2 separate regions of the Homo sapiens genome follow, and region 1 is linked to region 2. Evidence: fine-mapped expression QTL. A gene starts in region 2. The other region holds a variant in brackets. All regions are shown on one strand. Distances are from middle to middle. Region 1 overlaps SART3 (spliceosome associated factor 3, U4/U6 recycling protein). Region 2 holds the start of SART3 (spliceosome associated factor 3, U4/U6 recycling protein).

Region 1 (3,018 bases), 33 kb before region 2:
AAAAGCACCCTAGTGACTGATACCCGTGCCCCAGGGAGCACATTTTGGAAAGCACTACAAAGGATCTGTGGTTTCTAAAACACTTTCAATATGGCCTTGTGTCCTTAAGAGAGCTTAACCACAATCTTCTACTGCAGTCTGTCCTCACCACTGCCTCCAGAGGGCCAGTACTGAAGCTCAACAGACATCAGCCTCCGGCAAACAGACCTCCCCATCAGTTCACCCGCTGCCTTTCCAATGCAACGTAAGCCCTGCACACTGCTACTGTATTCAAGAGTGTCCCTGGGCTGGGTCCAGCTGACTGGCCCACCTACCACTCCAGCCTCCTCGACCACTGCCCCACCCCTCTCTAATGCATCTGAGTTCAAACCCAATTATCTGCTGCTCACAGAAAATGCCAGGCTGTGCTGTGCCTTCAGGCTGTACTAACATTGGCTCCTCCCTGTGTAGCTCAGACCTTCCCTTCTCGCTGCCACAGTCACTCGGTCTTCCCCCTGGATGCCGCATCTCTTCCCCCACAGTCTTCCTGGTACGAAGTTGACCCACTAGTGCCTTCTTTGGCCTCCACCAGTATTAACAATGCCATCTCCCACAGTCCTGATCACACGCCATGCCCTGATCACACACCACTGCGGTCACACATCACATTTGCCTTATTCTGCCAAACTGGGAGGCCAGTGGAGCAATGAGCCATCCTCAGTCATTTAGGAAAGCCCAAACAAGGTGTGCAAGCAAGGTCAACTCAACGATGGATGACTCCATTCCCAGTTCTCTCTGGCTCACACATCTGTATTAAGAAAGTATACAGAGTCCTTTCAAGTCCAGAGACAATTCTTTTTTTTGTTTTGTTTTGTTTTTGAGACAGTGTCTTGCTCTCTCTCCCAGGCTGGAGTGCAACGGCATGATCTCTACTCATTGCAACCTCTGCCTCCCGGGCTCAAGTAATTCTCCTGTCTCAGCCTCCCGAGTAGCTGGGAAAACAGGCACCCGCCACCACAGCCAACTAATTTTTGTATTTTTAGTAGAGGCAGGTTTTCACCATGTTGGCCAGGTTGATCTTGACCCCTGACCTCAGGTGATCCGCCCACCTCAGCCTCCCAGAGTGCTGGGATTACAGGCATGAGCTACCGCGCCCAGCCACCAGAGACAATTCTTTACCTTGACTGACTCTCTGAAATAAATATGACCCAGAGCTGCCCGTCCCTGAAATTACAAGGGTGAAAGAAACACTGCTGGAAAATTCCACTAAGTCAGAACCATTAAAAGCAGGGCCAAGGCCAGGTGCAGTGTCTCATGCCTGTAATAACAGCACTTTGGGAGGCCAAGGCGGGAGGATCACTTGAGGTCAGGAGTTCAAGACCAGCCTGGCTAACATGGTGAAACCCCGTCTCTACTAAAATACAAAAATTAGCTGGGCATGGTGGCTGGCAAAGTGTAATCCCAGCTACTTGGAAGGCTGAAGGAAGAGAATCACTTGAACCCAGGAGGCGGAGGTTGCAGTGAGCCGAGATCACGCAACTGCACTCCAGCCTGGGCGACAGAGCGAGACTCCCTCTCAAAAAAAAAAAAAAAAAAAAGTAGG[G/T]CCAAGCCTGGCAGGTCTGTGCAGGGTTGGGGCTGCAGCAGTGGTGCGGGATGCTAGAGCCTGAATGGAAGGAAGAAGACAGGCAGGCATGGGGCAGTGACAGGGACCCAGCAGCCTAGATCTGGAAGCCTGAGTGAAAGAAGCAAGGGTGTCCATGCAGGGCCGTGCCTGGCCCCGGGTGTGGGAGACCAAACAGGGTGGGGATGGCACATATGAGAAGGGGAGGCAGGCACAGGAAGTTGATTACATACCTACAGGGGCCGGGTGGAGTAACTGAGGATGCTGAGAATAGAGGGAGCCAAGTTTCTCAAGGTCAGAGAAGGGCGTGACACAGCTGGGCACAGTGGCTCACACCTGTAATCCCAGCACTTTGGGAGGCCGAGGCAGACAGATCACTTGAGGCCACAAGTTCAAGACCAGCCTGGCCAACATGGCGAAACCTGATCTCTACTAAAAATACAAAAAATTAGCCAGGTATGATGGTGCATGCCTGTAATCCCAGCTACTTGAGAGGCTGAGGCACAAGAATCACTTGAACCCGGGAAGCGGAGGTTGAAGTGAGCCAAGATCACCCCACTGCACTCCAGCCTGGGCAACAAAGCGAGACTCTGTCTCAAAAATAAATGAATAAATAAATTTTAAAAAGAGAGAGAAGGGCATTGCAAGTGTGAAGGGGAACCCTGTGGTGTTAGACCGGAACTGGAGGTATTGGTGTGAAATCATGACTTTCAGTATATACAAATAGTTACACAAGTAAATATGGTCATAAATATGTGTACACATGCACACGCACACGCACACACACACACACTCCCTACCCTCGACCACTCAGGCCTCAGAACAATAACCAACAGCAGTGAGCACAACTAGCACCTTCTAAATACCACTCATCACTCAAAGGAACCTTGGAGAAATGATGGATTCCAGGGCTGAGTTATGGAAAGTATAAGATGACCCTTGGGTATTGTGTGCTAGAAGGTAAGGAAATGATCAAAGAACAAGGGGACAGGTCAAAGGGACATAGAAGCCTGTGTGAAGGAACTCTTGCTAGCCAAACCTGGGATAAGTAGAGAATCAGCATAAATAATTCTCAAAAGGGTCATCACCAGTGATGGAACAAAGCGAATCACAGTCCACCTGATGGGACTCAATGGGCAGGCCACAGGAGCACTTGTGCACTATTCCTGCCCGAGATGCATGAGTGGAATCCAATGCTTAGGGAGCATCAGACACACCCAGGCTGAGGGGCACAACACAGCAACTGGCCTGCCCCCTTACAAGACTGCAGGTCATCAGAGTAAAAAAAAAAAGCTGAGGAGTGCTCCAGACTCAAGGAGATCCAGGAGACAGGACAACTAAACACAATAGTGCATCCTGAACCGGATCCTTTCACTACAAAGGACATTATCAGGATAAATGGGAACCCATAGCTCATT
Region 2 (2,500 bases):
ACTGGGGCTGCTTCCCTTGAACAAAGTTATCAGCAGGTCTCAGGTGCCCTCTCCACACAATTCAGATCACACCCTTCACCCCTTCCGGCCCAAAGATGGACACCAGGTTCTGGAGTTACCAGCTATGGGATACTAAACCTTCACTCCCGATTTCCCTACCCACACCTTTATTGAGTTTCTCTCAGATCATCCTAATTTAAATGTGCCACCTATTTCCTGCTGAGATCCTGGATTATACAGTAGATATCACCACCTCATAAGGTTACAAGTGAGAGACCATGTTATGACTAGATGCTAGGCACTGAGCTATAGTTACTGTTACAACAATTATATTATGCAGAAATTGTTGCTCCCAATCTGCAGATAAGGAAGTCGAGAGGGTGAGAGAAATTAAGAAATTCTTACAAGCACATACAAGAGTTGAACAGCTAGAACTGAGGCCTTAACCTCCAGAACCAGAAACCTTTCCATTTCTATTATCACCATCGCGGTCAATATTTTTCTTACCACAAGTTTCATCATCGCCGTCATTCCTACATAACAAAATAACACTCTCTTGCGAATGAGTTTATTTCTACTGTTGGACGTGTGGTTAAGAGTGGGAGTTCTGGAATGGGATCAAAGTACAAGGCCTGACTTGCAGGAAGTGTTATCTTGAGCAAGAAACTTTCCTCCACGAGCCTCAGTTTCCTCCAGTAAAATGGGGATAGATAACAGGGCTTCCTTCACAGGGTCGTGGCGAGGATTCAATGAGATAACGTTTGCAAGGCAATGGGCAGGCAGTAAGCACTCAAATCCGACAGGAGCTACTGTCACGAAAAGCGGGTTTGCAGCCTTGGCGGCTTTATCGCCGCCGAGGACTAGGGAGGCGGGCCAGGACATGGGGACCCGAGGACCTGAAAGACTGGAAGATGCCCGCTGCCCACCCCCGGGCCCACCTGCTCCTCCAGTCTCTCAATCTCCAGCTGGTTTTTCTCCTCCTCTTCGTCATATTCCCACTCGTACTCCCCGGGGGAGCTCTCCGCGGAGGAAGCCATGGCGTACTCATCCCCATCGCTCTCGCTCACGCCTTCCTCCTGCTGATCCCACGCTGGCCCCATGGTCTTGTATGTCGCAGCGGCCACAGCCCGCGATAACACCTTCCTCCTTGTCCTAGCCGCCTTAACCTCATCCTCCTCTCCGTCAGCCTTGGGCCCAGCCTTGGACTCAGCCTCGGGTTCTGAAGCCGAGGTTTCGGCCGCAGTCGCCATCTTGCGCTTCTAATGACTCTCGGGTCTTCCCGCGGCCGCCGAAGACCCGCTGAGGCAGAAGCTGCCCGCGGCGCGCGCCTTATCAAAAACCCGTTTTCTTGCCATTGAAAGAGAAACTGGGAACTTAGATAACAGGAAAATCTCCACATACACTAAATTCACATTATTTTATACCCTGTAAAAGCTCCCACCAGATATAAAAACTCATTATAATGGCATGCGTTCCGTCACAACTTCGGACAGAAGTTGGGTCTTTGGGCAGGAAGTGGAAGCCATAGAGGAAGTCATGGAGCGAGAGTGATGTCTGTAGTGAAGAATTTGGCGCCATCTTGAGAAGGTCAAAGTGATTCTTCGATTAAATGCCTTACTTATCGCCTAGTGTGACCTGGCGCTTGGGTTTACTCTCCCCAGCAACTGCGCCTCAAACGCAAAGAAAACTGCAGGTCCTCGGGGAAGGATCGATTTCACCATTCAAGAGAAAAATCCATTTCCCAGATTCCTCCCCTTTATGTAAACGTCTGGTACCTAGTAGACGTTAAATACACGTGAGTTTTCCGGTTTTATAAGATCACATACTGCAAACCAACAGTAAATTACATTAATACGCATTTCTTTAGAAATTCTTAATTGCTAGGCACTGACATATAAATTGAGTTTGCTGTTGTTTTAGAGAGAAAAATAGACATATTCATTTTTTTTCAATCAGGACATGGTATTCGTTTCCTTCTTAAGCTTCCCATTTTTGAGGTAGGAAAGTATTGGTGTGTGTCTCTATCTCTACCTTGCTCCCTCATTAGCAGGCTTAATGGGCAGGAATTATGTCTGTTTTGCTTTCCGTTGGATCCCCGGGTCTAGTAGAGCGCCTTGACACATAGTAGGTACTCGACACAGATGCTGGCTTCATGATGAAGCAATTGTCCTCGAATTAATACAAAAGGGAAGATTCAGACTCAGCGAGCCGGTACCATTCGTCTAGGGACACACAGCCAGGAAGGAACCGAACCAGGATTCTAACCCAGGATTACCCAAGTTCGAATTCTAATTGAACATAAGTCCTTAGCGACCTTGGACGGACTTACTAAACTGCCCTGAATCTCGGCTTCCTTAGCTGCAAAATAGGGTTAGGAAAAGTGGACTCGGTGCTCCTCTGCGCCGCATTCCCGCAGCGGGATTTGTGAAAGCGAACTTGAGCCCCACACTGCAGAAGCCCTGAGGTCCTGTCTCAACCAGAATCCAGCACCCAGGACAAG

The links.
Region 1: its variant is fine-mapped to the expression of SART3 in whole blood (INTERVAL, PIP above 0.99).

What each region holds. Positions count from the first base shown.
Region 1 is chr12:108,526,926-108,529,943 of GRCh38, forward strand. All of the region lies in intron 15 of SART3 (spliceosome associated factor 3, U4/U6 recycling protein), which reads right to left. Among named protein-coding and RNA genes, the nearest start is that of FICD, 13 kb to the left of the region's middle. The variant G/T (reference allele first, on the strand shown) is at 1,583.
Region 2 is chr12:108,559,905-108,562,404 of GRCh38, forward strand. It overlaps SART3 (spliceosome associated factor 3, U4/U6 recycling protein), which reads right to left and starts at 1,269. Exons shown (of 19, transcript NM_014706.4): 1 at 939-1,269. The coding sequence starts at 1,250. It also overlaps a transcript of ISCU not described here. RefSeq lists enhancers at 1,348-1,407, 1,418-1,517, 2,372-2,431.